Linked DNA regions of Homo sapiens: regions 1, 3, 4 and 5 are each linked to region 2. The links come from fine-mapping of genetic effects on gene expression. A gene starts in region 2. Each other region holds a variant in brackets. All regions are shown on one strand. Distances are between the middles of the regions.

Evidence for each region. PIP is the estimated chance that this variant, and not a neighbour inherited with it, causes the effect.
Region 1: its variant is fine-mapped to the expression of PPFIBP2 in tibial artery (GTEx, PIP above 0.99).
Region 3: its variant is fine-mapped to the expression of PPFIBP2 in blood mononuclear cells (TOPMed, PIP 0.97).
Region 4: its variant is fine-mapped to the expression of PPFIBP2 in whole blood (INTERVAL, PIP above 0.99).
Region 5: its variant is fine-mapped to the expression of PPFIBP2 in lung (TOPMed, PIP above 0.99).

What each region holds. Positions count from the first base shown.
Region 1 is chr11:7,581,232-7,587,817 of GRCh38, forward strand. The region is part of intron 3 of PPFIBP2 (PPFIB scaffold protein 2); the gene reads left to right. LOC105376535 (a long non-coding RNA gene) reads right to left here. Exons shown (of 4, transcript XR_007062579.1): 3 at 29-178. Among named protein-coding and RNA genes, the nearest start is that of PPFIBP2, 71 kb to the left of the region's middle. The variant C/G (reference allele first, on the strand shown) is at 3,788.
Region 2 is chr11:7,510,823-7,517,408 of GRCh38, forward strand. It overlaps PPFIBP2 (PPFIB scaffold protein 2), which reads left to right and starts at 3,177. Exons shown (of 24, transcript NM_003621.5): 1 at 3,177-3,299. LOC124902806 (leucine-rich repeat extensin-like protein 5) reads right to left here. Exons shown (of 4, transcript XM_047428005.1): 2 at 3,296-3,783; 3 at 1,301-3,218. The coding sequence ends at 2,388. It overlaps OLFML1 (olfactomedin like 1), which reads left to right. Exons shown (of 3, transcript NM_198474.4): 3 at 1-555. RefSeq lists enhancers at 1,953-2,072, 5,758-5,807 and a silencer at 2,743-3,272.
Region 3 is chr11:7,588,735-7,594,171 of GRCh38, forward strand. PPFIBP2 (PPFIB scaffold protein 2) reads left to right here. Exons shown (of 24, transcript NM_003621.5): 4 at 4,398-4,490. It overlaps LOC105376535 (a long non-coding RNA gene), which reads right to left. Exons shown (of 4, transcript XR_007062579.1): 2 at 1,372-1,660. Among named protein-coding and RNA genes, the nearest start is that of PPFIBP2, 77 kb to the left of the region's middle. The variant G/A (reference allele first, on the strand shown) is at 3,496.
Region 4 is chr11:7,653,706-7,660,291 of GRCh38, forward strand. PPFIBP2 (PPFIB scaffold protein 2) reads left to right here. Exons shown (of 24, transcript NM_003621.5): 24 at 1-51. Among named protein-coding and RNA genes, the nearest start is that of CYB5R2, 17 kb to the right of the region's middle. The variant A/T (reference allele first, on the strand shown) is at 3,649.
Region 5 is chr11:7,594,599-7,601,184 of GRCh38, forward strand. It overlaps PPFIBP2 (PPFIB scaffold protein 2), which reads left to right. Exons shown (of 24, transcript NM_003621.5): 5 at 2,962-3,075. LOC105376535 (a long non-coding RNA gene) reads right to left here and starts at 2,582. Exons shown (of 4, transcript XR_007062579.1): 1 at 2,500-2,582. The variant G/T (reference allele first, on the strand shown) is at 2,070.

The DNA of each region.
Region 1 (6,586 bases), 70 kb after region 2:
GATCCAACCCACACAACCATGAACACACCTCTAAAAATAGCTCCGAGCAGGGTCTGTGGGACCCACCCACTGCTCTTTCGGCAAGAGTTCATTTTCCCAGGAACAGAAATCCCAGACTGTCAGCATCTTCACACTGCTTCCTGGCTTCCAGCACTCTCAGTGCTTAAGCAAATTCCAACTGTAGGTCACAAAGAAAATGGAATCACTACAGGTCCCCCATGCAGTTGGCTCAGGTTCTGCAGTAAAAAGTGGAATTAACTCAAGCTGCTAATGTGAGACTTTATTCTGTGTCATCTGGTGCTCAAATGGTTGATCTAGTAGCCTGGCCACTTGGGCCAGAAGAGCTGCAAAGGCAGACACGGAGGTCTCCTCACTCCAGACACTGACTTGCCTTGCATTCATGTTGGACTGCAGTGAAAGTTACAGAAATAGGCAGCAGCTTCTGTGAAGGCTGTTCCTACTAGTTAAGAGCATGGATCCTGGATCTAGATTCCTTGGGCTCATATCTCACCTCTGTGTAGACTTGGGCAATTTATTTAACCTTCCTAGAATTCAATTTCCTTGATTATATATATGGATAAACAATTCTATAGATAGATAGATAGATAGATTTTTTTTTTTTTGAGACAGAGTCTAGGTCTGTCACCCAGGCTGGAGTGCAGTGGCACAATCTTGGCTCACTTCAACCTCCTTCTCCTAGCTTCAAGCGATTCTCCTGCCTCAGCCTCCCGAGTAGCTGGGATTACAGGCATACACCGCCATGCCCAGCTAATTTTTTGTATTTTTAGTAGAGATGGGGTTTTGCCATGTTAGCCAGTCTGGTCTCGAACTCCTGATCTCAGATGATGCGCCCGCCTCAGCCTCCCAAAGTGCTGGGATTACAGGCGTGAGCCACCGTGCCCAGCCAATTCAATGTATGTTAAGTGCTTAGGAAGCACTTTATAAGTGTTAGAGTTATGGGGAGGATGACATCGATCAGAACTGACAACCTCTGGTTACTCGGGAGCCAGGTACCCAACCTTGATTCTGAAAAGAGAGGTTTTTCAATCCTATGGGAAAGGCAACAGTGGATATGGTCACCCAAGGGCACTAGCTTCCTCAATTTCCTATGATACCTCCTATTTCTGGCCAACACACCCGAGATGCCTGTACATTATGTTTCCTGGTATAATTTAGAAGCTAGAATTCTGCCATCTCTGACATCCAGCACCTGTAACTCCTGCCAGCTCCTTGAAGAGAGGCCTCTTTTACCCAGTGGGATTTAACAAACTGGCATCACACCAGGGTCATTTGCTGAACAACTTGTGGGCACTACAGAGCAGCACAGCCATTGTTGGTTTTGTGGACTGGCAGCAGCACTTAGGGATCCTTTGACTCATCCCTGCTTTTCTCTGTCCCTTCCTCCATAGCAGCTCTTTCACACTTTTCCATTAGTCTTCAACCTTATACTCCCCTTTCAACTGATGTCACTACCAATGTCATAGGAAAAAAAAAAAAAAACCAGCCAAACTGAGATGAGTCTCTTCACCCTCCCTCCCTTTCACCGCAAAATGTAACTGTATTTCAGCATCCTGTTTCATGGGCCAGGAGTCCCTTCTCTCAGCCAAGGCTATCCCAGTATCCTGTCCTTGACCCAATCCTGTTCCAGCTCCTCTTGTTGCTCTGATTGTTTCTTCTCTCAGCTCCTCCCTGCCTATCTGTCCCTTGCCCTTGGTGGAAAATGCTTCTCCTCAATTCTCAGGGAAAAAACAAATCAAAACTATCTTTGACCCTGTGCTTGTCTCTTCATGCTGCCTTATAACTTACCTTCCTTTCACTGTTAAGATTCTTGGTGAGTTGTTAGCCTGCTCGTTCATCTCTACTCCCTCCTGGTCACTCCTGAAGCCAGTGAGCACTAACTTTGTTCCTATAGTCATCTTTTAAATTCCTTCTGTAATGTTATTTTTGCTGCCTCTAGTTCCCAGGCAATCTTCCCCATACATTTTCCTTTGTATTCATTTCCATTTGGAAATCTTGTAGGATTAATGGCATTCTTGTGACCCGAGGAGCAGCTCCTTACTTTGGCTCTTGCCTAATTCTGTGTTCTCAAACTTTGGATCTTTCATGCCGAAGAGACACCAGGCTCTAAAGCCTCCAGGGGAGCTAAGACAGTCACAGCGCCCACTCCACCCTAACTGTAGCACCCAGTCCTGCTGCACTGTCTCTGAAGGTGTTTTCAGTAATAATGACTCAGTGCATCTATTGGAGTTGGCAAGGTGAGGACAGTCTTCAAAGAGTCTTCTCTTTTTACTCTCCTCCTGGCTTTCACATCCTCTCATTACAGGATACCAGCACACATACAAATGCTATTTCTGCAGCCCAGTGCTGTAAGCTTTTTATGTGTCCAGCTACCAGATAAAGAGAATTTAGCAGTGACCAAGCTCAGCCAAGGTTATAATTTTGGGGAAAAAAAAAATCTTGGTAAATGTGTTTCTCTACAAATCTAGCTCCCCAGGAAGATCAGTTAGGAGCTTCATCCCAGCCCCTTGGTTGGAGAGCTGATGGCCAGTTTATCTTCAGGGTGTCCTGTGTTTGCTATGTTAGTTCTGGAAGACCAGAATATCTGAAGGGTAGTGATTGTCATAGCTTCATGGGTAGCATGTCTGTATTGGGAAGGCTATTTCCAAAGCTGCTGTTCTCACATTCTCCTAGGGGTATTCCTTTAAAGCCTTCAGACTCAATCATTCAAATGGTGCCTCCACTGTAAAGCCTCTTCTCTCTTTTGAAGGTGAAATGTTTTTGTCTCTCCTCTATGCCCCTGCCATTCATGTGCATACAACTCTTTATGATAGTACTTATTACATCCTGCTGCAAAGGTTGATTTCTTTTTTCCTTCTGTCCTTATTCCCTGTAATACTACAGAGCTTTTTAAGGGCAGGGACTAAATCATTGTTTAGCACAGAAAGTGGCACCTAGTGGGTGCTCAGGATTATTCAAGTCATTTCATAAATACATTCATGACGTGTGATGATGTGAACATTGGTCAACCAAGAAGCTATTTATTTGCTGTTTATGAACTCTGCTTTGTTCTTCCTTAAAAGAGGACATTTAGATCATTGGATGATAGCCTCATCAGCAATACTTAACCTCCCCTTATATATAATTGAGGGGAGGAGGGAATAAGGGTCAAGGTCAGGATAGGCTTTCTCTTGTTGGACTCCTGGTAGCCGAGGATCTGACTGCACTCTATTCACATTGCATTTGGAAGAAATTTCTTTAACACTGTGACAAAGATGGTAGATTGGCTTGACCGTTCTTCACCTAGAAAAAGCAGAACTGGTCCTGGGAATACTCAGGTTTATAATAAATGCCAGAAAGCCCTAAAACTCCTTAATAAAAAAATCTAGGGGAAGTTTTCTTTTTTATAAGAACCTGCCTACACTCATACTACTGGGTTCCCTTGGTGTTGGGTAACCAGAGTCCTGTAACAGGAATTGACTGTAGCTTTTGTGATCCAATCATTTTTGTTTATTTATTTATTTTGGTCCCCTTACTTTTAAGGTTTATGTCTTCTAAGTTTCTAAAAGGGGTTGCATGTGAGTGGTGCTTCTGAGCTTAAGATATAGCCTTAGTAACTTTGATATCTCCCCTGATGCCCTGTGCCTGGCAGCTATGGTTCACTTGTAACTAGTTTTCTGGATTTTGATAAGATCCTCTTGACTAGGCAGCCTGGAAACACTACACATTTTCTTTTGTTTTCTTATTCAGCTAAAAATACATGTCATCTAAATGGCTAAATAAGGAAGAA[C/G]CATTTTAAGGCTTATCCAGGACAAGGCTTACCCAACGTGCTGTGTTCAAAATCTCAGCGTATTTACAGGCAAAGAGCCATCATATAATTTAACATGCTCTGACCAGTTGGGACAGTGTATGTACTGTGGCCAAGATCCTGAAGGCACTGGAATTTATAGCTTATTAGAAGCACTGAAGGAAATGTAACTCTTTACCTGGCCAAGATGACAACTATTGATATCAAAAAAAGGAAGGCAGATGCATTTTGAGGATCCCAAGGCAAGAGCTCTGAGAAGCAACTGTTGGCTTCAAAAACCAACATGATGCTAGAGCTGTCACACTGGGGAGCCGACTGTTTTAGGTTTTCCCACACTCCTTACTTGTATACCAATGACACCCCTGTTGTGATCTAGCCCTTGCCCCATTTGACTACTCTGGAACCAACTCCTTCCCCTAGTTCAATGAAGTACAGTGCCAGCAGGAAGTCTCCTGGGTCATGCCAGTTGGGGAGTGCTACAGAACTGCCCTCATCCAGCATCCCTGAGGTGTACCAGAGCACATGTGAAGAGTGTGTTCTCCTTGCAAATGGCCAGCCAGGCCATAAAGCAGTCATGCTGCCCACCACAAATCTGCAGGACCCCAGCCATGGCATCAAGCACTCACCCTGTCTAGAGCTCCAAGGAGAGACTAACATGGCTATCCCTTGGCCAAGCTACAGTGGAAGGGCTAGGCCAGGAGAGAGCATTGTCATAGATCTGAACAGCCACTGCAGTCAGAGGGTGATGTCTTTGAGGAGGCCGCTGGGGGTTAACTTGGCTGAAAAGTTCATGTTTAACCCAAATTTGAACTAACCTCTAGATTGGAACAGAAATAAAAACCCAAGTGTTTATGATTGGTTATTACTAGCTATAAAAATTCCCAGTGTACTCATTATAAACATGTATGTAGCACATAATACTTAGAGTACACAATAAAACACTTGTACGAAAGAAAAATATGTGGCCATGAATGTATGACTCAAAAATGTGAGCACTTGTTCAGGGATAGTGGAGAAGTGAACTCATCTTTGGCAATGTGGCCCAAAGACATGATCCCAGGGCTATTAGCTAATGGTGGGTTCTGCGTTGTCACTGTCACAGAGGCTTTCTTTTTGTTTTGTTTTTTCATTTCAAGCCTGAAAGTATTTTGGTTATTGTTCCCTTGGGTTGTTTGTACAGATCTTCATAGATATTTCTTAGGCATCCTGATCAGAAATATTGCCCCTGTTGTTCTCTTACACAAAAAGAGTGAATTAATTAAAACTTTTTGTAGAAGGCATTAAATGATGCCTTCTAACTCATGCTTCTAACTGAATGTTGGTCTTTTAGATTAAACAAAGCTAAATCATTTATAAGTTAGCTAAATTCATTTGTTAAATTATAATTTAAAAATCATTTCCATATTCCTATGATTATTCAAAAACTGTTTATATCACACAGGAATTTTTAGAGCACCCTACTATAAAGAGCACTCTGTAGTTTTAGTGCCACACGTTTTCAGGTATGCTGACCTAACTTGACCCTTTCTGTTGCTCCGTGAAGCATGATTTTTTCTATTGAAAGGATGGAAAGCCTGAGATGAGGTAACCTACTTGAGATTACACATGGTTAGGTGCAGCCCCAGCCTCCTAATTATTCTTGGTTTGTCCTCTTTCTGCAGAGAAGGTGGTCCCTTGGGGAGGAGGATGCAATAGGAATTCTGTAAATGAATATGGAAGCACCACAAGAAAGTCCCCAGGGATCCCCTGACTTGAAGTTCAGCTGGGCCAAATGAGGGGAACAGGGAACCCAGAGCTCTCAGCCTCCCAGCGCCCAGACCTGGCATTTGTACAGCTGTGTCTGACATGTAATTCTTTCGACATAACTTCTTAAACAGTTGTTAGATCTATTTCTGTTATTTACCCTTCATTTATTCATTTTCTGATTCATTTTCTGATAATATCTTTTAGACTTTAGCTCCTGTTTATTTCTTGTTTTGTTTGAACTTACTTTTTCATATCACACATCCTGCTCCCCACCTCCACCAACCCCGGTTGATGCCCATGGGCCTGTTGCATCTTGTATTCATTCCCTGTCTTAACCTTTTTGCTCTACATGGGAAATAAGAATGGAAGCAAACAGGTGGTGGATAGAAAGCCATCTATTCCACACACAAAGGACACTGAGTGCCCTTTTTATCCTAGTACATCCCACACAGACACTCCCTGTGCCACAAAGTAGATCTCAATTAGCCCCTGATGATAATCCTGGTTTGAACTATAGTTGGCTTAGGACTGACAGCCCTGTCTTAAAAATTGCCACTTTAAGCAAATCAAGCAATAGTGGCAGAATTCCTTTGCAATTCAGAACTATATCCAAATAGCAGGAATTCTTTCCTACAAGTCTGTTTCCAAAGGAGTAAATTTTAGTCAGTTGATCACCTTTTGAGACAAATGTATTAACCAGAACTTTTGGTTGCAAATAACAGAAACTCAGTTTGAACTAGGCCAAGAGGGAACCAACAGGAAGGGCTGGAATATATCTCTGCCTTTAGGCAGCGTGCACCGGGGATGAGAATGCCTCCAGTCTTTTTCTTGGCTTTTGTTTGCTTTTCTGTGCACACTGGGTTCATAGCTGTCTCTTGCTGCAAACCAGCTTTTTCCACGTGGAGCAGGACATGGCCACTGACAACCTCAGAACTGTGGCACCACCACTACCATGCTCTGTTCCCAAGTTTAAAAATTCAGAGGAAGGATTTCAACAAGTCAAGCCTGGATCAAGTGGCAGGGAGATGAGGATCT
Region 2 (6,586 bases):
GAGGTTTAACCTCTATTTCCCCTAGCCCTGTCCTTCCACTAAGCTTGGTAGATGTAATAATAAAGTGAAAATATTAACATTTGAATATCGCTTTCCAGGTGTGGAGTGTTTGCACATCATTTAATTCTCGTTTCACCTTTGTGAAACATGCACAAGTCTTTACAGCTGTCATTCTAGAGTTTAGGTGAGTAACACAATTACAAAGTGAAAGATACAGCTAGAAAATACTACAAATCCCATAGTTTTTCCATTGCCCAAGGAAGCATCAAATACGTATGTTTGTTCACCTACTCTTATAGTCAATGCGTTCATCGTTTCAGCCTAAAAATAATAGTCTGTCCCTTTAGCCAGTTTTCATGTCTGCACAAGACCTTTCAATAGGCCTTTCAAATGATAATTCCTCCAGAAAACCAGTCTAAGGGTGAGGACCCCAACTCTAGCCTCCTCTTGTCTTGCTGTCCTCTGTTTCTCTCTTTCTGCTTTAAATTCAATAAAAGTGACACTGAGCAAATAACCTCATCAGGTTATATTTGCCCACATACCCTAAGCACAAAAGCTTTCTGGGAGTGCTGCTTGTGTTAGGTTTACTGTGAATGATTCCCAACACACTGAGGCCCTGGTAAATATTCTGGAATCTGGACAGAAGCCATACAGCAGGCAAGCGACTCTGCCACAGCAGGCATGCCCTGTGGCACCGAGGGCAGCATGCCTCTTGACAGGGGCTTCCTCAGTGTTTCCCACGTGTTTGTCCAATTCAGCTAAGTTCGAGTCACAAGTGCAGGCTGTGGTGCCAGTCTGTGTCACGTGCTGAAGCCTCTGTCTTTCCAGGTTGGTCACATGAGAAGGTTTGCTTTGTGTGCTTGCAGCTGTTTTCCTGTCTTTGCCAAGCCCAGGCTGGGACCATAGGCAGTGAAGAGAAAATGTTTTTTTCCATAGCATTTGAGTAGATATTTGGCAGAAGGGAATTACTCAACCCATGGATACAGTGTAATTACCCACAGTTCTAACAGAATGGTACAGAGAGGCCAAATCCTTTGTGGAATGAGACAGGTATGAATAAATAAATGTGATATTACCTGCCCTATTACCTACCTATTTCACAGATAGAAGGAATGTGGGCTGCCTCACAGAGGATAGTGGGGTAGATTTATCAATAGGAGTGAGTCCTGCAACCATAGTTCCTTTGGAGGCACAGAGGGGAGGTTGCCTGAAATGTGCTGTCTAGATTCCACCTGGGATATGATTTGATTGACAGCTCTGCAGGGCACATCTGCCCCAAACAACTCACCTTGGTACCTACCTTAAATCCCTGCAGCTCGAATCACTCTTTTAGGTCAAGACATTTTCTCCAGGAAGCCCCTGTTAAGGGACCACTTTGCTTCTTGTGAGCCAGCGCAGGTCAGTATGCAGGCCTGGGAATGGGGTTTCTTTCAGGTGAACGTTTTAGCTCTGGGGTCTTGTTGGATTTAAGTGAAGACTGACATCGACATGGCCTACATCAGTGGTTCTTAAACTTTGTTGCACATAAGAATCACCTGCGGAGTTTTAACAGTCCTCATGCCGTGGCCATATCCCCAAGACCATTAAATCAGAACCTCTGGGGATGGATCGAGATATCAGTATTTTTAAAGTTCCTTCCCGCAAGTTGGTTCCAAAGTGCAAAGAAGCTCCAGAGCCGGTGACTTAGAACATTTAAAAAGGTAACTGTATCAATTTAAGAACAGGCTAGCAGTTTCTGGGGGCGGAGGTAAGGGGAGTGGCTCCGCTAGGGCAATAAAGGGTGGGATTCGGAAACAGCCATGACCTTGTGTGAACTGTGGCAGCCTGCGTCTACAAAAGTCGCTCTGCTGCTATTTTAAGGAAGTGAAAGAGAACTGAAGGGTGTCCTGTTGTAACACAACTCTTGCGGGCCCCAGCCTTCCCCTGCTGGCTGTGCTTTGGTCTGCTGCTGGCCAGGTTCCCGCAGTGACCACACGTCTCATATTTGCCAGGGTGGGTTAGGTTCTGTTCACATGTAAAATTCTCCTGGGCCTACTGGTCATTTCAGACCGCGAGGGTAAATTTGGTTTGAAAAAGTTGTGTCCTGTGGAGTTTGTCGACACTCCAGCCTGTAGAGAACTAAAGGCTAGGGCTGTGGTGACTCCTGCCAGAGCTGGGGACTATGCCGAGTCCCTGGTGTCGCTGCCATCTGAGGCCTACAGGGATTTTAAACAGCTTAACAGCAGCCAGTCCTTGGAGGCCTGGGCAGGGCCACAACATAGCAGTACAACCAAAACGGGTTCAGGCCACACGCTGGAGGTAGGGGCTGGACCAGATCTCCAGCTTCAGTCCTCCCCAGTTCGAGAACCCATTCCTGTGGTCAGACATTGCCAACGCTTTTCTTGGACCTAAGGTCCCAGACCTTGGCGCTGGGCACAGGGAAATGCTTCCTGACCTCGGCTCTTCATAAGACAGAACTTTTGTTTGGTGCCAACCACTAGAGGGACCTCCACCCCAGGTTGCGAGTGCAGCGCGGCGGGACCTGGGATGATTCGGGGGCTTTCCGACCTGCTTAGGGAGGGCGGCTCAGAGACAACCTCAATTTTGCCTGGATTGCACGCGGGCCGAGGAAGTCGGGATGCTCCGAAGGGTTTCTGCTCTGGGAGTGCCTCTAATGTGGGTTTTCTATGCTTTCTCTCTTCGCAATTCTCGACACCGTTTCCTTCTTCCTCGCTTTCATTCCCTGTGACCGGAGAACGGCGCTGAAGGACTGGAGAAGCCCAGGAGACTGGGAGCCGGAGCGCCGGGTACCCACCCGGGCCTCCCCGCAACCGGAGCTGTGCGGAGGAGGAGGCGCGGCGAACGGGGCGGGGCTCCCGGAAGGGGGCGCGGTCCGCCGAGAGAGGCGGGGCTGGGGCCCGGACGCGCGGCCCAGGGGGTGGGGACGAGGCAGGTTCGAAGGGGCGGGGCTGACCAGGCCGGTCCCCCGGGAACAGGAACCCTGGTGGACGGGTCCCAGCAGGCTTCTTCGGTGCCCGAGAGGGAGCGGGTGCCCAAGGGGGTGGTCCCTGTGGCAGGTCCCGGGGTGGGGGCGCGGCGCTCCGGGAAGAGCCTTCCGCAGGTCCCCGCCCCGTCACGTGGGCGCCGGCCCCGGCCGCTGCGGTCGGTCCGCTGGTTGGTCGGGCGCTTGGTCCGGCAGTTGGTCGGTGGGCCAGTGGCCCGTCGCTCGCTTCTGGGCTCTCATGTTTGAAGGTGGGAGGGACACGGGAGCGGCCCGCACACCTGAGCCGCCCGGAGAGGAGCCTCGGCCCCGTACCCAGGTCAGTGGGCTCTCCCCACACCCCGGGCTTGCCGCGCGGTCGGGGTTGGGATCCCCGTCGGGAGCATTACCTAGGGAGTGGAGCGCCCCCAGAGCTACGAACCACGGGGACGTGTGGGTCAGTGTCTCTGTGAGCCCCGGAGCGTGTCCCAGGCTCGAGGACGGGGACCCTTCTCCAACTCCACTGGCCAGAAGCCTGGGAGGAGGGCAGAACTCCTGTGGGTTGGCTGCGAATCTCCACCCAACCCTGCCTGGGATCCGCGGACAGTCCGCACTCCTGCAGGTGCCAGCGTGGCCCTGGAGATGCGCAGGGAGGTGGGGTCCCTGAGTTCTGTGCGGCGCGTCCCAGCCCTGCTCAGCCCGGGGAGCAGCGGCGTGGACTAGGGAGCCTAAGGAGGTTGCGGAAGCTTTAGGTCTGTCAGCCCAGGCAATTCTCTGGTGGACACAGCGTGTGTCTAGATGCAGGGCCTCGGCTAAAGCCAGTTCTGTAGTGTAAGTGCAAAAATACAGCACACTTTTTAAAATCTAAAGCCGCCGCGTCCCAGTAGACTGCAGGATGGGGACGGTCCTATTTAAAAGTGGGCTCCCTCCTCACCTCATCACATCAGATTCCAGACCCGCAGTTTTTCCTCGGATGAAAATAAGATTATGTAACAAGAGAACAGAACTTCCAGCGTTTGGATAGGATTAAGACAGGCATTCTTGCCAGTGTTTAATCTTCTTAAAAAACGAATCTAATTATATTTTTACTTTTAGAGCAGCCAGATATTTGGTATAGATCCGTGTCCCTTTTCTATATTTTGGTCTACTTCCTGTCTTTCTCTTCGTCTCTCTCCTTTCTCAACCCCTCCTTAATTGATTGTAATACAAATCTGAAGTGTTTTCAAATTTGTAGTGTATTATGTGAAGTTAAATGGTCAACTACAGAAAAGTAGTTGGTTTTCGACATAATTCATCTTCAGCATATTCAGTCTTTCATTATTATAGGTGTATGGAAAGCTGTAAGTGTTATCTAATTTAGAAATTATTTCTCTTTGGCTTAAGAGAGGCAACCCATTTGTACTTTGCTTAAATTCATAGCTAAATAAATTTGAAGTGGGAGATGGGGATGATTGATGAGGTTTTCACTGATTGCATTTATCCATGTTTTATTTAACATATTTCAATTATTAGTAATACTATTTTAAGATTTGGTGATGTGACAGTTGTTAGCTTATTGCTACTGGAGAGATAAGCTGCTTACCATGATGCCTTCTTTACTGGGTAGCTAAGGGAGATGCGCTTTGACTTTAAAAGAGTAAGTGGAATGAGATCAATGACATGAAGGCGGTAGGAACAAAGTTATGGGAATTCCTGTCTTTCATCTGAGCAGGGAAATCTGGGATAATTTTAAGAAAGGGTGATGTGATGGACCTCAAAGGATCCCTCCTGGGGTTTTTGAGGCAGAGAAGGGTAGAGTGTGGCCTGGGCTGTGACAACTGTGTGGGCAGGCAGGCATGGACTCACCATGAGAAGTGGCCAGTGGTCCAGCTTGGCTCTTATGTCAAGTGCTAGTCAGGAAAGCTGGTGACAAGGCTGGAAAATAGTCCCAGCTGTCCAGTACAGAAGTCTGGACTTGGTCTGAAGGCACAGCAGGGGACTGACTGATGGTTCTGTGAACTTCTCAAAGTCAAAGACCTTGGTCCTTGACCCTCCCAATTCCTAGCCTGATACAGAGAAAATCCAGTAAATATTTGTGGAGTGCATGGTCTGACAACACTGTAGAGCAGAGCTTCTCAAAGTTGAGAATCCTGTGGGGATCTTGTTCAAATGCAAATTATGATTCCATAGGTCAGGGGTGGGACTTGACATTCTGTGTTTCTAACAGATTCCCAGGAGCTTGCTGATCATTTCCCTATGTGTAGCAAGGATTTAGAGTAGCAGTTTGCAAACCTGGCTATGCCTCATAATCGCCTGGGGAGTTTTGTAAAACGTTCAGATTAAGTAGTCTGGGATGTTTTTACCAAGTTCCCCCAGGTGATTCTGTTGACAAACCCGAAGGCAACTGCTGCAATGGCAAAGTTCTGGGAGTGTGGTGGGAAGCAAACTCCAAGGGAAAAAGACAGTGGGGGCGGCGAGGCCGGATAGGAAACCGGGAGGCTGATCCAGGGTCAAAGGGATGAGGCCTTATTTTGGGCCTGAGAGAGTGATGAGGTGGGGACAGGTAGGGAGACTTCGGAGAGATAGAATCTGTAGGACAGAGGACTAGGGAATGGGACAGTCTCTAGACTGATTAGATGCAATGAGAAGTGAGGAGGGAGAAACAATGCTGGGAAGATTCAGCTTTGGGCCTGAGGAATGGTATGGCCTTTAGACTGTAATGTTTAAGGTAAAGTTTATGAAAGGTTCTTGTATTGGTTCGAACCCCGAGAGCCTGCCAACAGACAACATGAGGCGGTGTGGGGCAACGTGCTGTTTTAACGAGCGCCTGGGTGCAGGTGGGCTGAGGCCTAAAATGGCGTCAGCACCAAGTGAGGACGAGGCAGGGGTTTTATAGTTTCCTGTAAACAAGAAGTGTCTCAGTCTGATGTAACTTCTGCACAGTACCCAGACGGCCCCTCTCTCTGTCTTCAAGGGGTACGTGTCTTCCAGCCAGGGTAGGTGTCTTCTGGCCGGCTGTCTTCCTGCTTCTGCTGTCTTGCTGATGCACACTGCTGGCGCAACTGGCCTTGCACCTTGGGACTGGGCCTGAGAAGGGAGGAGTTACTCATCTCTTCAAGCTTTCAGACCCCGGGGAGAATCTTTCATTCCTGTCTATTTGGTTATAGTAAAAAGGGAAAAGGGGTGACTTTCTCAATAACTACTTCAGGCGTGACTTAGGGGTGGTGTGGGCTCCTTGGAAAAAGAAAAACTTAATTTTTAGGGTATTCTTGAGAGATGTGTTGGTATCCATCGTGTCGTTGTAGCAGGAGCATAGTCTGAATTGTCTGGTGGCTAACTGTAGTTTCAATAAGAGTTTTAGTGGCTTTTATTATTAGTGGGATAACACAGGGGAGAAAAAGTGATGAAGATTACTGTCCCTACCAGGGTTTTAAATCCTCCTAAATTAGAGAACTGTTGTCCGGCTGCTAGAGTGAGAGCTCGAGTGAGGGTGATGAGTTCAGCTTTTTGGGAGGTGGTGCCTGGGAGGAGCAGATTGGCTTCAATAGTGTGGGGTCTTTAAGGGTAATGTGGACAGGGGTGTGGTGTTTTGCAACTGAGGGTGTGGAAATATCCCTAACAGCGGGGTTAACTACAGATAGGGGTAAG
Region 3 (5,437 bases), 77 kb after region 2:
CCTCTTGAGAGCAACACTTGATAGACACAAAGGTGGCTTGGCTTCAATGATCTTGACTAAGGGTGCTGAGTTCTTAAAAATATCCATTCGAGAAGCCCTTGTCTTGATTCAGTTCCGTGATATAGGAGAGGTAGTATGTTTCACTGTGGCATTCTTTAGTCAAAATTGAAGAGGATGTGGAAATGTCTGGAGTTAACAGTTCTCCACAGGGCACACAGATCACATGGTTCTCACTATATTTTTAGGTAACTAACCTGAATTACAGTATCAGAAATAGCTCTGACCATTTGAATGAATGGTCTGAAAATTTGAATGAGAAGATTGACTTTTCCCTGTCACATTTGTAGCAATAACCATCAGAACAGAGGGGGAGGAAGTTTGATCAAATATATGTAACACAGCTTACCATTGGCAGGTCTAGCCTAGTGGCTAATGTCATTGGTTGAGTAAAAATTAGCTCTTTCTTATATTCATCTGTGGATTGAGCATCCTTAACAAGTATAACGGGGGTGGATGATACTCTCCTTTATAGTCACTTGCCATCCCACAGTGGGGAACAATAGAAAATTAGCATGTAGGCCAGGCACGGTGGCTCATGCCTGTAATCTCAGCACTTTGGGAGGCCAAGGTGGGCAGATCACAAGGTCAAGAGATTGAGACTATCCTGGCCAACGTGGTGAAACCCCATCTCTACCAAAAATACAAAAAATTAGCTGGGCATGGTGGTGCATGCCTGTAGACCCAGCTACTCAAGAGGCTGAGGCAGGAGGATCGCTTGAACCCAGGAGGCAGAGGTTGCAGTGAGCCTAGATCGCACCACTGCACTCCAGCCTGGTGACAGAACAAGACTCTGTCTCAAAAAGAACAACCCCCTCCCAAAAAAAAAAAAACCTCAGAAAATTAGCACGTAGCATCCTTCAGAATTTGATTGGACTTTCTTCTCTGTGAAATGTGGGCATGGTTTTTGCAACCTGACTTCATGCGTGGAGAGCTGGGCAACTGCTCTATCGCTGACTTACCTAATCAGGAACATGGACAAGACTTTTCAGAGACACCTCAAACCTGGAATCATGCAGGGATCCACTATCCATCCAAGCCTTCTATTTGCAATTCCACTATTAAAGAAGCAGGTATACTTGTTGACCAAGCAAGCTGTCTTTAAAGTAGAGCAAAACAGAGATGTGTCCTAACTCAGTCTTTTAAAATATTTTTCTCAATAAATTGGAATCCCATTTTGATAACCACAAAGCTTATTATGCCTTGATGATGTAGTCATTTTATAATGCAAGAATGATACCAGAACGTGATTGAACCTGTTGCCAGGTTATAAGAATACAGAATATACAGATTCACCCAAAGGCAAATCCTTACCTTAGGCTGATGAGTATTAGCATTCAGCAAGACAATCCTCTTCTTGGCCCTGTTCTCAGATGCTTTCCAAGTTTTTCTCCAGGCAGAGGTGGCATTTGATCCTGGCCTATGCCCTTCTGAAGAACGCAGTTTTTTTTAACATCCTAGTCCTATATAGATCATGAAAACACATGGCTCTGACTTCATCAAAAGCAAAGGATAGTGATACTGTGGGTTTCCATCTGGAACATTATCTTTCACTGCTGTTTACCTTTAAAAAGCTTGCTGGAGAACGGTGATTTTGAAGGACCTGTAGAAGAGGAAGATGCACTGTTCCTCTAGAACAGTGATTGGGGTGGGGGAGGGACCTGTCTGCCATGCACACCACTGCTGTATGGACCAGTATGCCTGCTAGGAAAGGAGTTGGCTCCTCGAATCTGTTATAGGAGGGGCAAATATGAGGAACCACTGTTCTAGGTCCTCTAACAGTGCTTCTAGATTTTCAAATATATTTTAATTACTCAATAGAAACATTTTGTAAGAAACTCAAACATTATGTCAAAGTGCTCTGAACAGTGCCTGGCACATGTTGAGCACAAGGTGCTTGCTGTGTATTTACAGCACTGTGCCTGGACCATATTATATTAGTCTCCATGGAATTGCTTTCACCTTTGGCCCATATTGTCCACTAGCCTCTGAACTATTCTGAGAACATCACACAAAAGTAATGAGTTCTACTGGGCTCTGTTTACTATAAGGGTGTCATGGATATTGCTGATCCCATCACACAAAATCTGTCTATGAAAACGTGAAGTTTCTCCCTTGCTCCGGAATAATTATGCTTCTCCTAGGCAATTGATTTGATTTTACCATACTGATCTGCGGATCCTGTTAACTGATTGTGCCTCTCTTTTTTTACTGGCTGCTAGCGTGGATCTAGATTTTTGATCCCCCTTCTAGCATGTGCTATAGAATCTAGGTCATACATTTTATTAACTGAATTTATGATTTCAACTTTCTTACTCTTTTTTTTGTCAACTAGTAAAAATAGTTACCTCTCTGGGTGATTGTATGGGTAGACCTTTTATTATAATGAAGAATATACTGCACACCATTTGAATAAGGCATAGTTGGTACAGTGGCTTGCTGGAGTCTCTGGAAGAAGTCTTGCCTTTGGTCTTCTCTCCTTCATTTCCTGCCAGAGAATGGGCGGCTGCCAGTGCTAGGTGGCTCCGTGTCCATGTGGACTTCGGCACTGGGGTTCTACCTGCAGAGCTTCACTTGGACACCTGGGTCCTGTTTAATTCTCTGTCCACTGGAAATCACCATCATGTGAGTTCTTTGACAGAGAAGAAGTTGACCTGCTATTAAGAATTATTCTCCTACCTTTTCTTCTCTGGTTCTGAGAAAATATAGATTATAATATATTCTTGGATTCTAGTCAGAGAATTTGATCATGTGAGAACCGGAATATTAATTTAACAACAATAAACTGCCATTAACAAAGAAGTCAGTTGTGATTGTTAAGGTTCTTTGTCTGTGGCATGAAAGAGCTTCCATAACAATGAACAAGACATAGGCTCCAGAGGGGCTGGAGCAGAAGACAGTGGTGTGGCAGCAGGTGCTGCCTGGCACAGCTGGCCTGGGGAGTGGCCCCTGGGCCTGTCCTCTGGCTGCACCTTCAACAAACAATCAATGAATCTTTCACTAGTGCGCATCCAGGGTTTGAATGCGGTATGCTTGGTCCACATTTCTGTTCTAGGACTGGGCATGGCTCTGTTGCCTCCCTCACCTATGCAGTGCATTGGGAAGGGGTGGGATGAGGGGAGGAAGGAGGTGCCTTTTCTCATGGAGGGTGGTGGGAGAGCCCATGCTAAAAGTTGAAATGTGGGGAAATGGCCTAGGACAAGGTGGCCCAACTCTGGGTCTCTCACATCTGCCTCTTTGCACAATTAAGACTTTCCTCTAGGGTGGTAGACACCTCCCTCGTGAATATTGAAGTGCTGATTTCACTGGACCAGCTCAGATTGTATAATACTCAGTTCCACATTTAGCAATCAGATCTACTTTTTCAAACTGCCAAGCCTCTGGGTGGCCTATTGCAGACCAGTCTGATTTCAGTCTTCCATTTGCATGGAGGAAGGA[G/A]GTGTTGGGGCCAGCTTGGTGACATTAGCTCCTTCTCTCCTGTCTGCCCACAACCAGGTCAGACACACCCAAGAAAGTGACACCTCCTTTCTCTGCTTGGGACATTTGTAAGATTCTGCCTCTCCTCTGACATTTCACATCCTCTCCCTTTCCTCTCTTTTCTATAGTTTCTGGCTACCTGTAATTTCCTTAGCTTTTGCTCTGGCATCCCTCTGGCTATTATTTAAGTTCTTCTCAAGATGTTTTGTCTTAGCTTGCTTCTCTCAGCTCTAGCACTGGGGAAATGTGATCTGCCAGCCTGGCTACCAAAGCTCTTATTGGAGGGTGGGATTGGGGTGGGAAGGGACGTGTGAATGAAGGGCCTTGTAGTTGACATCCTCCATCCTTCATGCTCACTGTGATGTTCAGGATGGGCCTCCATGCAGCAAGGTGTGCCTTGGCTTCAGGGGACCCTGGCATGAGAATTAGGAGATACCAAGATCTGTGCAGAAGCTGTTCCCATGTAGTCCCTTGGAGAACGGTGCCAGCTCTCCAATCTCCTCAAAGAGCAGACCCTCATTGTCGCCATGCCTCTGGAGGCTGTGCCTCTGGCTAACCCAGACCCAGCATGTCAAGTCAAGCACTGCTGGGCCTAGAGTTTCACAGAGGCCCTCCTGGCCAGGAGTGAGGTCATCCAGGAGGTGGTTGTGCCAACTTCCAGGGCGCACTTTTCAGTGGCATGTGATCTGGTTCTCCTCATGGTAGTTTTGAAATCTTGTGGTTTCCTGTTTTGATGATTGGTTTTGTACATATAATCAGTGAAACTATCCTCACAAATTACATGCATCCCTTATTTCATTTAGAAGTTGGTAAGATGTTTTTCCAACCTTTTAAGTGTATTCTTTTTTTTCTGTCCTCTTTAGTCCCAGGTAAACCACCACAGTGCTGCTAGTAATGAAACCTACCAGGAACGCTTGGCACGTCTAGAAGGGGATAAGGAGTCCCTCATATTGCAGGTGGGTACTTTTTGGTGAGAATCGGCTTATCCTGTTACCTCCTACTATGTAGCTTCCCCTAAGTGGAAGGGAAGCCCAAGAGATTTTCTCTGTTGGAATTTTTCTCCTTCCAATGCCTATGTTTTTAGAAAAGACTTTTCCTGAAATAAAACATTAAGTAACTGAGGGGACAATTTAACTCTAGACTTGGCTTAGGGGGGCTGTGAATTCAGTCATTCATTTATCATGCACTCCCAAGCACCCGCTTCTATACACTGGCAGCCCCATGACCAGGCTGATTTCCAGGTGCTAAGAATGAACAAAATGGGCCCTGTCCCCCAGAAGCTCCTGAGTCTTGCGAGGGAGGGGAGATATATCCTCATGCCACTAATAAAACAGAGCTGTGGGTGATACAGGCCTAAGGGTGAATGCTAATGAATCAAGTCCAAATTGTCTGAAGCTGGATCTAGACTGATCCCTTTAATGCCAAATCCCCTGGAGCTGGTAACAGGGGCTAAGCCTTTGATAGCTGTCTTGCTTGAAAGAGAGGAGCTCCAAAACCTTTTACGGAGAAAGATCATCAAGGGAGCTTTTTCGCTGTTGAAAGTTTGTGTGCCTTGGTAGGACATAGAGTTAGGTATTCTCATAAGAAGGCTGTTGAAGAAGCAGGCCCAGCACTTTGCTGTGTTAGCTCTTGAAAATATAAATTGATTAAGCAAGCATTTACTCAAGGTCTGGTATGCATCAGATATTAATTAGTGATTTGGAAAATATAAAGGCTAGTATCCTAATCCCAGCTCCTTAAAAGCTTAAAGGGTGATGAGTTAGACTGGTGGTAGAATGAAGGGAGGGGTTGAGCGGGGCCTGGAACCCACCCCAGGCTATGGGCTTTAGCTTGGAGCACTAAGGTTATGAGGTGGCAGTGTGTTTGTTTTTTCTCTTTTTACCTTACTTATTTTACTCTTTCA
Region 4 (6,586 bases), 140 kb after region 2:
TTCAGAGGTGGTCTCTTCTTTCTTGTAATAAAAGCAATATTTATGCGGAAAGCAAGCAGCTCACCATATCTTTAACTTTGTTGGGGAAAAAGAGCTGAGGGTAGCTGGAAATGGAGTCCTACGGATTGCAGAGCTGAAGAGCCGGTGGCACTGAGCCTAGTCCTCAGCCAGGTGCATGCTCAGGATTCACCAGGGGGGTAGAGCAAGGCGGGACCCCCTCCCATAGCCTTCAGAGGAGGTCCGTGGCCGCACTGCTTCAGAATTTGCTTCCCTCTGTGAAGCCGAGGGGGCTTCAAGTCTCATGCACATCCTGACCATAGGGTCCATCTGTCGTGCAGACCTCAAAGCTGAGTGCTTTCAGTGGCATGAGCCCCCCCAGTGAAGGGGATGGTGGGGAGACAAGAAGGCACCTTGCTGGAAAGACTCTCTTTCATGTGTTTTGCTGGCTTCTCTATTACTGACTTAGCTAGGCTCATAACCATGGTGGGGGCTGGTCTGTCTGCTGGCAGAACTGAAAGAGATCTGTCCCCTTGATTTAGAGGCTGACTGACTGATAATGACTGATAATGGCTCCTCCAGATGGGCCTTGTCTGGCTGGGACTGAGGTAGAGATGTGCCTTGCCAGTCTGGACTCCTGGTCAGAAGACTCTAGTTTGCCCCCAGGCAGTGCTTGGCTCCCCTCAATCCCCTGGGCCTCATCGCAGAAGAGTAACACCACGTCACCGCTGTCTGATGGCCTGGGCACGGCCTGATGACTCCATTCCATTGTAGCACTCTGATTCTGTACCAGATGGAGGCTATGCTAAGATTTGCTTCTTAAACTACCAGCAGCCTCAGGCATGGTCTGTTGCCACAGGCCACTGCCTCCTGGGAGGTGAGAGATGTGGGGACAAGCTTGCCAGCTGGCAATGCTGCTGATAGATCCTGGTACCCAGGTCCACTGGATGACAAGTGCTCATTCAGGCTGATGCCTGGCCACTGGAGTTGTAGAGCCAGTCAGGGCAGGCTTTGTCCCTTGTTTCTTATGTTGCGGTACAGGGATCTCTGCATGTGCCTGTTTTCAAAACCTGCATGGAACTGTTGTGCCACTGATTCTCTGCACCCTCAAGTAAGTCCTGTTCCCTTTGTGGGCTTGTTTTCCTACCTATAAAACAAGGGAGGGGTTACACTTGGTGCCCTCCAAATTTACAGAGGATGTTTCCAAATCTACAGTGTCTAAGTAGGTTTAGGGAAGGAGGAAGAGACCAGCATTACCTGAGAAGGAGGGGCAGGAGGGAGGCTCTTGAGTAGTGAGGAAGGATGCCCACCTATGTCAGGGCATTGGTGTCTGAGCTCCTGTTGCCTGGTAGCAGGAGTCTAGCATCCTGAAGGCCTTCATTCCTACTGCTCTCTGCTCCTGGAAATAGCTGGAACATTGAACACGTGCAGAAGGGCTGCTTCTGACAAGCTTGTGTCTTGCCTCTGTGTACCCTGAATGCCAGTTCCCAGTGGGGCCCCAGGAGAGGTATGCATGCAGTGTGGGACATTGATGCCTTTCCCCAGGAAACAGGAGCAGCATGTGCTCCACCCACCTGTCACTCCTCAGGGCCTGGCCCACTCCTTGCCTGTCCCTCCAGAGAAGCATGCCCTGGAGAAGCCAGGCTTGAGCACGACAGGACTTGCATGCCATCTCTCTGAATCACAAGCTGCATCCATGTGTGCTGACCAGGCTGCTGCCCATTTTACAGATGGCACCTTCGGAAGGTACCGTGACGCAGATAGGGCTCCTCTCCCAAGACATTCACCGCCTTACGGTAGGACTCTGACCCTCTCCCCACAGTCAGACTGGTGCCAGGGAGGCCCAGTGAGTTTGGTGTGGTGTGGTGTGGTATGCACAAGGCCTGGGGGACGGCGAAGAATGGTGCTTAGTGCTGGGGTCACAGCCTGAGCCTGAGCCAGCCACGAGGCAGAAAGCAGCCCAGGGGCCTTCTCTGTTGGCCTGTTACTGGACCTTGAGCCCCTAAGGGCAGTGGGGAGGCTCATCGGCTGTTAGCCAAAGCCAGCTAAAGCACACTAGATCTCAGGTCCTCTTCCCAGGCTTAGAGATGAGGAAACCAAGATGCTCAGCAACTCTAGATCACCTGTCTCATCAGCCTAGAGCCCAGGCTGCATCCTGTCCTAGTGGACACTTCCACCCTCTGCCCAGAGACATATGCATTTCCTATCGTGCCTCTGACTTTGTGGGTATCACAGAGTGTTGACAGGCTTGTGAGCACATCCTGGCACGCCCGAAAGGACAAACCATATCATGGGGAAGCAGTTTGGCCTCGAAAAGCAGCTTTGGAGTGAGGCTGAAGTCCCTGCTCTGACTTCACTAGCTCTGTGACCTTGGATGTCATTCTCTCCTGAGCTTTGGCTTAGTTATCTGTAAAGCAGGGCTAATGACATCCTCCTTGCCAGGCTTATAGGCAGACTAGAGCTGGCAGGAAAAGGCCAGCCACAGAGCACAGGATTTGTTTTTGAGGATCCATCACTCCCAAGGCCTTTTAGTTCTTGGACATTCCATCACTGAGCCTATTGGCTATAGTGTCTGTCCCCATCGAGGCCCCTGTCCCTGTACTTTGCTTGCTTGTCTAGCAAGGCCCATTGGGATGACAGGACAAGGACAGGGACACACGACTCTCCTTGTTTTCAAGGACAAAACAGGAAAGTCTCCCTGACTCCAAACAGGATCAGTTTTACTCAACGTTTTTATTTATTGGCCCACCCATGAAAGGAATCTGCCCACACTTGCCCTTATGATCTAGGCCTTTGGTGGCCTGAAAATAGAAAATTTATTTCTAAGATGAACAATTTATTTTTATCTTAATAGTGTTGTTTATTCTGACCCAATACTCAGGGTTTCTTGGGACACTATAAACTTATAGTGCACCTGTGTCAGATGCAGCCCTCACCCAGTGCCCTCTAGTTCCGGTGCAGCTGCCGCAGGGCAGCCTGGACCAAAACTCTATTAAACTGACCCTTCGGCTGTGTCCTTTTCAGACAATGCTGAGCCAGGACCAGCTGCTGAATGACTCTCGCCTGCCTGCCCCCAACTCTGATGACTGGAGATGACTTTCTTCGTGGCTGAGAGCGTAGGGAGGCATGTGTGGGGGCCCCGGAGCCTTTGCTTCTGTGGGGAGCGGGCACACAGCCCCCTCTGCAAGCCCAGTCCGGGCTGGCAGGGTGTCTCAGACAGGCTGCTGACAGGCATGAAGCAGAGCTGTGGGACAGGTGTCCAGGGGTGGCCCCAGGGTCCATGTGTGTCTTCAACCATGCTGCGCTCTTCACCGCAGGCTTCATACCTTTTGTACTTTTATACGTGGACTGCAGACCACTTTGTGGGAGGGCAGTGACATATCAGCACACAGACTCGATGGCTCGTGATATTCCTGGTGACAGCCTGGAGGCTCTCACACTCGAGGGGAAGAGCTGTTAGTTCATAAAACCTGCTGGAAAAAAAGTTCCGAAAAACTGTTTTGAATGTTCTGTAGAGACTGTGTTTTGTGAAATGGTCACCAGGAGGTCCCTCCGGGGCTGCTTCACAGAACGTGCTTTTTCCATTCTTGGGACTGTGGCTGGGCAAGGCAGGTGTTTAGGGTATGAGCGGGTAAAGCAACGAGGCTCCTT[A/T]CCCACAGCACTGCCTGACTCTATCTCCCGTCATCTGCAAGGGGTATCTGTGCGACTCCCAGCTTGGAGCAGAGGCGTCCCCAACACGTGCACACCCTGCCTTCTGCCTCCACCCAAGCTGACACACAGCCTCCTCCCAGGCCTTGCCCTTGGAGCAGCTCAGGCGTAATGTCTGATTAAATAGCTCCCCCAAGTGGAAGGCCCTTGAGCACCTCAAGCTCCGTGTTTCCACCCCAACTCACCAACTTCCCAAACATGTCTGTTTCCTCTCCACTCTTTAGTCCTTCCTCCCTCCAGGCGTCTGCTCAGGCCCTTCCCTCACTAGGGAATGCATTTTTCTCCTAGTCCCCTTCATGAGGGAAAATCCTGTCTCTCAAGGCACGGCAAAGAGACCATCTCTCAGGAAGCCTTCCCGCATGATCCAGTTACAGGTAGCTCTCCCACAGTGCCGTGTCTGCCCTTGAGCCAGAGCACAGCTCACCTTGAAGTTTCTTGTCGTCTTACCATACCCGTCCTCACCACAAACTTGGAGCACCTGCTCTGCACTGGCTCCTGTAGACAGTCCTCCAGTTGCCAAGGAGATCTGTGCTCCTAAGTTCCTCATCCACCCACTCCTTCGCATGTGTGTGTTAAGAACCTTCCATGCCAGGGCTAGAGATACAGGCATGAATGCCAAGGTCCCTGCCTAAAGGTGCTTACAGTGTAGTGGAGTACAGACCAGTTTCAAACAAGACTCTGCCAAAGGTTACAGATGCTCCAATATTAGTTTCTGCAGCCTAAAAGAGCATGTTGTCATTTTTTTTTTATTATACTTTAAGTTTTAGGGTACATGTGCACATTGTGCAGGTTAGTTACATATGTATACATGTGCCATGCTGGTGCACTGCACCCACTAACTCGTCATCTAGCATTAGGTATATCTCCAGGTGCTATCCCTCCCCCCTCCCCCCACCCCACAACAGTCCCCAGAGTGTGATATTCCCCTTCCTGTGTCCATGTGATCTCATTGTTCAATTCCCACCTATGAGTGAGAATATGCGGTGTTTGGTTTTTTGTTCTTGCGATAGTTTACTGAGAATGATGATTTCCAATTTCATCCATGTCCCTACAAAGGACATGAACTCATCATTTTTTATGGCTGCATAGTATTCCATGGTGTATATGTGCCACATTTTCTTAATCCAGTCTATCATTGATGGACATTTGGGTTGGTTCCAAGTCTTTGCTATTGTGAATAATGCTGCAATAAACATACGTGTGCATGTGTCTTTATAGCAGCATGATTTATAGTCCTTTGGGTATATACCCAGTAATGGGATGGCTGGGTCAAATGGTATTTCCAGTTCTAGATCCCTGAGGAATCGCCACACTGACTTCCACAATGGTTGAACTAGTTTACAGTCCCACCAACAGTGTAAAAGTGTTCCTATTTCTCCACATCCTCTCCAGCACCTGTTGTTTCCTGACTTTTTAATGATTGCCATTCTAACTGGTGTGAGATGGTATCTCATTGTGGTTTTGATTTGCATTTCTCTGATGGCCAGTGATGATGAGCATTTTTTCATGTGTTTTTTGGCTGCATAAATGTCTTCTTTTGAGAAGTGTCTGTTCATGTCCTTTGCCCACTTTTTGATGGGGTTGTTTTTTTCTTGTAAATTTGTTGGAGTTCATTGTAGATTCTGGATATTAGCCCTTTGTCAGATGAGTAGGTTGCGAAAATTTTCTCCCATTTTGTAGGTTGCCTGTTCACTCTGATGGTAGTTTCCTTTTGCTGTGCAGAAGCTCTTTAGTTTAATTAGATCCCATTTGTCAATTTTGTCTTTTGTTGCCATTGCTTTTGGTGTTTTAGACATGAAGTCCTTGCCCATGCCTATGTCCTGAATGGTAATGCCTAGGTTTTCTTCTAGGGTTTTTATGGTTTTAGGTCTAACCTTTAAGTCTTTAATCCATCTTGAATTGATTTTTGTATAAGGTGTAAGGAAGGGATCCAGTTTCAGCTTTCTACATATGGCTAGCCAGTTTTCCCAGCACCATTTATTAAATAGGGAATCCTTTCCCCATTGCTTGTTTTTCTCAGGTTTGTCAAAGATCAGATAGTTGTAGATATGTGGCGTTATTTCTGAGGGCTCTGTTGTTCTGTTCCATTGATCTATATCTCTGTTTTGGTACCAGTACCATGCTGTTTTGGTTACTGTAGCCTTGTAGTATAGTTTGAAGTCAGGTAGTGTGATGCCTCCAGCTTTGTTCTTTTGGCTTAGGATTGACTTGGCAATGTGGGCTCTTTTTTGGTTCCATATGAACTTTAAAGTAGTTTTTTCCAATTCTGTGAAGAAAGGCATTGGTAGCTTGATGGGGATGGCATTGAATCTGTAAATTACCTTGGGCAGTATGGCCATTTTGACGATATTGATTCTTCCTACCCATGAGCATGGAATGTTCTTCCATTTGTTTGTATCCTCTTTTATTTCCTTGAGCAGTGGTTTGTAGTTCTCCTTGAAGAGGTCCTTCACATCCCTTGTAAGTTGGATTCCTAGGTATTTTATTCTCTTTGAAGCAATTGTGAATGGGAATTCACTCATGATTTGGCTCTCTGTTTGTCTGTTGTTGGTATATAAGAATGCTTGTGATTTTTGTACATTGATTTTGTATCCTGAGACTTTGCTGAAGTTGCTTATCAGCTGAAGGAGATTTTGGGCTGAGACAATGGGGTTTTCTAGATATACAATCATGTCATCTGCAAACAGGGACAATTTGACTTCCTCTTTTCCTAATTGAATACCTTTTATTTCCTTCTCCTGCCTAATTGCCCTGGCCAGAACTTCCAACACTGTGTTGAATAGGAGTGGTGAGAGAGGGCATCCCTGTCTTGTGCCCGTTTTCAAAGGGAATGCTTCCAGTTTTTGCCCATTCAGTATGATATTGGCTGTGGGTTTGTCAT
Region 5 (6,586 bases), 84 kb after region 2:
TGGTGAAACCCTGTCTCTACTGAAAATACAAAAATAAGCCAGGCATGGTGATGGGTGCCTGTAATCCCAGCACTTTGGGAGGCTGAGGCAGGTGAATCACCTGAGGTTAGGAGTTGGAGACCAGCTTGACCAGCATGGTGAAACCCTGTCTCTACTGAAAATACAAAAATAAGCCAGGCATGGTGATGGGTGCCTGTAATCCCAGCTACTCGGAAGGCTGACGTAGGAGAATTGATTGAACCCAGGAGGTGGAGGTTGCAGTGAGCCAACATCGCATCACTGTGCTCCAGCCTGGGCAACAGAGCGAGACTCCATCTCAAAAAAAAAAAAAAAAAAAAAGAAAAAGGAGAGTGTGAATTGACAATAAGCCAATACATTAACTATTTCAGGTGCTGGTAAGAACGCTGGAAAAAAGTAAAGCAGGATGAGGATTGTGTAGTAAAAGGAAGATCTCCTTTACAGGAGGAAGCCAAGGAGGGAGCCATGCAGATACCTGGAGAAGTGCATTCCAGGCAGAGCAGGCAGTCAGTCCAGCCCACACACTGAGGCAAGAGTGTGCTTGGGGTGTGGGAAGAACAGCAAGTGGCCATTGTGCCTGCAGTCTGTGCTCAAAAGGGTGGTGCGAGCTGCCTTTAGAAAGGTAGCAAGGGCCAGATTGAATAGCACATTGTAGCACAGATGTTTGAGGGATGTGTAATTTGAAACTCTTATCCCAATGACATGATTAATGAAAGAGTATCCAATGTAAGATTTTGCAGCAAACAGTATGAAATTGCAAACTTTTGAACCAGGACCCTTCATGATTGAAATAGCACATTCCTATTTACAGAGGATTACAATTTAATTTTTCAAAGTCCTGTGTAATAATGCTCCCTTTCACATTCATAGTTTTCTAAAATTCCAAATTCTTGAATAATCCCCATTTAAATAATCCTAACACAATTGGGAAGCTGCTTGCCAGTAAAGTCAGAAGTTGACCCTAGTAGTTTCTACTCTACTGGGAGCTTATGGGCAGACTCCAGGAGTGTCTGTTAAGTGATCACTGCTGTTCTGCAGTGGAGCTGGTTAGGCAGATTCTCAGCAGGGTAGAGCCTCTTGCTTAATGCACACAGCAGCTTAGCCAGACTGAATTAATTTAGAGTCCTTGGCCCAGAAAGTTTTCCTGGTTCTACTCATAGAACAAGGCAAATCACACATAACAAAATACTTTGTTTCTAGGATTAGTTAAAAACAAAACCAGAATCTCTTGTATCTTCATTATAATGTAACTCCTTAGGAAAAGGATTTTTATCCTTTTTTTTTTTTTTTAACTTCTGTATCCTCCAGTACCTAAAATTATGCCTAGCATCTATTAGGGTCTCAAAAATAGTTGTTTTTAGTGAACAAAGGTCACATTTTATGACCTTTATGTATTTTGTCTGGATTTCCTACATCCCTTCATTTGTAATACTTAGAATCAGCGTTGAGGTTCAGAAAGCCCCTGGAGCTGAACAATTAGCTATAGAATGCTAGAGATCCTATGATTCCTTGAGTATCACCAACACATGGCCTCAAGGCATGGTATAGACCATAGAAATGTTTAACCCTCATAATAAGATTAACCAGAAAACATCCTTCACAAACAGAAACTCTGGATTCCAGTGAGCAAAGCCCACCCCCAGAGTCCTGCCCTTTTGAAAGTAGAGTTAGTTCAGGATGGCTGAGAGTGTTGGGCCACAGGGATTAATAAACACCCACCCACAAAGGTTTGCGTGTAAGGTGGACCAAGTTGATAGAAAGAGCCCGTTCTTGTTTTTTTTTTTTTTTTTAACATTTTTTTTGGTTAAAAGTGGAATGTTAACCATGTGTCAACTCCAGGAATATGTTTCAATAATTCATTAATCATTTGGGAAAATAAAAATGGAGATCTTAAAGTAGGCATATTAATTTAGATTAGTTCCTTTTTAAACAGGCGCTTTATAATTCAGAAAGTTTATCTAAACACTCATAAATGAATTCACATCAACTCATGCACCATCTATTATTCCATTTCAGACTGAGAAATAATTCTGGATAATCTATATGTAAAT[G/T]GCAACAACTCTAACCAAAAAGGTCTAAAGGATCTCAGTTTATCAACTGCTAATTTCTTCACTTTGGGGAGGACACTCATTCTCTCTCTTCTTGCTTTGAACCATCTCTTAATAAAGAAAAAGGATCCTGGGGCCGTTTGCTAATAGAGAAGGCTATGAAAACCATTGTTAATATATAGTTAGTGCATAATTTGAATGACTTCCTGTAAATGAGTTTTTACTAATTAATATTTTTAATAGGGATTCTCAGCGTTCTTCAGAAAGATGACTTTTTTTCTGCCACCGTATGTGTAATGTGGCTTCTCTATATTTATGACTTAGAGTCATGTTTTGGCCTGTGAAGCACAATAACCTTTCTGGAGCCAAGTTTTGTCAGTGCTAATACATGCCCTTTACAGCCCACATTCCTTAATTGCATCAAAACACTCACCTGATAGGTGAGCAGTCCTCACACCCTTATGAGAGAGGTAAGGTCATTGGTTAGTTTCCATGAAGTTTGGACCGCTCTTCCACACGAGGTTGCAGAAGTGCTGGCAAGCCAGCTGAGATGTGCCTTGAGGTCGGGGCTGTTCTGGAAGAGGAATAAGGAGCAGGAGTCCAGCCCAGAGGCAGCTCCTGTGGCTGTTGGGTGTTTTACTCTTGAGTCTATCAAGAGCAGTAAACGTGACCCATGTCATCAGAGCAGTGGCCGAGACTCCCTGGTAAGGTAAGAATCTAACTGCAGCTGCCTTCGTTCAGGACACTTCCTCCACCTGCCACTCAGCAAAAATCAAAATCGTTCACTGTGTGTAAGAGTCAGTGGTGAGATTTAACGGCTCCCCTGAGGTGGGGAGGCTTTCCTGCACCATGTCAAATCCCTGGTCCTCCACCATTGCTTTATTTCCTGGAACAGGTGAGTGTCCTCACAGACCAAGTAGAAGCCCAGGGAGAAAAGATTCGAGACCTGGAAGTGTGTCTGGAAGGACACCAGGTGAAACTCAATGCTGCTGAAGAGATGCTTCAACAGGTAAGGGCGGGTGCACTGAAGGCCCTTGGGTGCCGAAGCAGCTCATGTGCTGAAGCCCCTTTGTGTGCCCAGGCTACAGCCCTCGCTGTCTGCTTTCCCATCCTGCCTGGGGGCGGGATTGGCTGCTCAGTTGTACGGTGTTTATACAGCAGGTGAAACCAACCTGAACGTTGAGAGTGGCAGAGGGGGTAGGGAAGGGAAGGGCTGCCCTGAGATGAATAACCTGCTGAGCTGGTTAGACAGATTCCCAGACAGCACTTTCTCCAGACCTGGTGCAGTGAGGGAGCGCTCGGCTGGGGGCCTCACCCTCATCCTGTGGGTGCCATCTGGAGTTTTAGAAAGTCAATTCTCAGCTGATTCTATGCCCCTTTCCCATCTCGCTCTGCCTCTTCCTACTGTATATAGTTTTTAAAATAAAAATATTATATAAATAACCTTTTAGTATAATTTAATAGATATCAAAATGGAAAAAGATATTTAACTGTTCCCTACCATTCAAATAATGTCTTCTCCTTGTTTTCTTTTTGTCCTTGTTATGTGTACATGTACTTTCCAAATCTGTAATCACAAGAGATATGCAATTTAGTCCTCAGATTTTGTATGCTTAATATTATATTTTTCCCATTTAAAATTTTTGCTGTATTGTCATCTTTACTATCACCTATAATAGATTTTCTTAGTAAAAGTATCAGAATTGACTTAACTTTTTTTCAATTCCTAAATATTTTTACTGTATTATAAATAATGAGCTACAATTTTTTAGGAAGGGGTGTTGAATTTTTATTGTATCAAAACTTCAGAATTTGTTGAGAAGCGAATTAGGTTTTTAAATGAAATGTATTAATATATCTAATCTTAAATTTTCCTTAAGTCATTCTTACATTTTAAGTTATCTTGAAAATTAAACAATGACTGAAGTTTATGTGTGTATGCCTTATAACTCCTGGCATAGTACTTGGCACATAAAAGGTACTCACAATTACTTAAAGAACAAAAGTTTGTTCCTTAAAATGAGTGGATTCAATTAGAGGACTACTTATAATCTTTCCTCCAAAAGCGCTAGCATTTTTTTTTTAATTGTCATGATCAGCATAAGACTCAGATTGTTTCTTGACAGCATACTGGTGAACACAGGCTTTGCATTTTACCTTTGGTCTCATGACAAATGTCATGAGAATTAATCTGGTGTTTGTTAGTTTTGTTTGAGTGCCTTTGAAGAACTTTATACAAATGTAAGTCAGTGTTTTTATATATATGTCTTCATAAAAACCCGTTTCAATGATTCAGGAACTTTTGTTTGTTATCTTTTCATTGCTGATTAATAAATTACCACATTCTTGGCGCCATTTGATTTTCTACTTAGGTTGTGTGCCATTTCTCTTGTTCATAATATTTCCTAAAAATCTGACTAGCAAAAGGAATTGAGGCTTTTTTTTTTTAATTGAATCTTTCTTTTGAAGACCCAGGAAAGAAAATAGCCTGATGGAAAAAAATCTCAAATGATGAAAGTATTTTCACAAAGAGTGCAGAAAACAACCTACTAGATTGTGTTTTCAAGTCTGCACAAGGTGTGTTTTTGAGGTGAGAAGGATAAGGGAAGAAGATGATGGAATGGTGTAAACAATCCAGAAAGAGAGCAAGAACATTTGAATACGGAAGGGAACGTGTCAGAAGGTTGATGTTTCAGGAAGGCTATGCTGGGAGAGTAACCACATAATCAGAGGTCAACAGAATGCTGCATTGTAGTGCCTGAGTTATCTGACTGCCTGTGCTGGCTTCTCTGAGCCTTCTCTACATAGCTCTCTATGACAGTGTTTCTGCTCCATTGTCAAAGTCTCTGTGTCAAGGAGTCTGATTGTGATGCCCAGCACCACCTGGGGAGAGGCTGTCTAGTTCCTCTAAACATCATCCCATGGATGGCATTTTAGACTTTTTTAAAGTCATAAACTCAATTACTTTTTTTTTTTTTTTTTTTGAGACGGAGTCTTTCTCAGTTGCCCAGGCTGGAGTGCGGTGGCGCGATCTCGGCTCACTGCAACCTCCGCCTCCTGGGTTCACGCCATTCTCCTGCCTTAGCCTCCCAAGTAGCTGGGACTACAGGTGCCTGCCACCACGCCCGGCTAATTTTTTTTTTTTTTTTTTTTGTAGTTTTAGTAGAGACGGGGTTTCACCATGTTAGCCAGGATGGTCTCAATCTCCTGACCTCATGATCCACCCGCCTTGGCCTCCCAAAGTGCTGGGATTACAGGTGTGAGCCACTGCGCCCGGCCTCAATTACCTTTTTTAGCCCGTTTATTCTAAACCCTCTTTCCTGTGTGCTGTGGGTTTGGTATTGGGCGTGTGGTACCATGTGCCATAGAGGGTAGATGTCTTAACCTGGCATATTTTGGAGTATGGTAGCCACTTCTGAGTTTCAAAGATTCCTGAACTTGACCAAGTTATTTTTCTGCCCATAAGCTTTCATTGTATTCTCTCAAACTGTCAAGGGTCAAATGATAGCAGTGTGCAGTGCTCCTTTCTTAACAAATTGAGTTCAAGCCATAGGACACATCTGAGCCTCATCTTCCACTCATGTGTTCGCTGGGCTGGGTGGCACCAGAGCTTGAGATCTTTTGAGTTCCCAGATCTAAATCCAAAGTTGAATGTTCGGCCGCACATGCTATTGCTTTCCTGAAGTCTGTTTGATGCTGTTTGTGAAGACACTTGATTCTTGCACCACAGTGCTGATGCAATATCTCTGGCTTGGAGTATGTGTGTATTCTCTGAGCTAGGGACAGGCAAACACTTGCCTGATTTGACTGAGATATCCTGGGCTGCAGGGCCCTTGGCTTCTGGTGGTAGGAGCAAGAATGACTCATGGCCTAGAGGCAGAGAATGGAGGCAAACAATTGCCTCTTTCTGCCAGCCTCAGAAACCATTCCTGCCTGGAGCCAAGGCGAGCCTGCTGCTCAAAGCCTCTGAAGGAAATCCTTTCACTGTCTCAGTGTGCGCCCTTCTAACTGCCTGTAGATAAGGTGCTTCCTCGGGGTTTGCTGCTCCTGATAACCCTGCATGCTGGAGACATCCTGTCTGAAGGCAGCAGCTGCTGTTCTACTCCAGTTGACTGCCCATGTAGGCCTGGTAATGCTAGATATTCTCATTTTTCACAAGAGACTCAAAATCCAGATCTAAAGAGTTAAGGATCTCTGCTTTTAAAATATTAGCAGCTAATTTAAGTTTTTTAAAATGCTGTGTGAATCATACAGTACATACCTATAGGTCAAGCCTGGCCTGCAGGCCTCCAATCTGCAACCTCTGCTCTAGACTTGGCCCCTTCTACAGGCTGGAATAACTCCAGGGGGACTTGGGGAAAGCCAAATCAATGAGGATAGCCCAAACCTTGTGCTTAAAGGGGCTCCAAGAACCCCATTGAGCTGTCTCTCTCCATGCTGCTCTCCTGACCAATGTCAACCTTCCTCCAGGAGCACAAGAGGTGAGGAGTTAGTTCCTTACCTAGTTCATGAACAATATA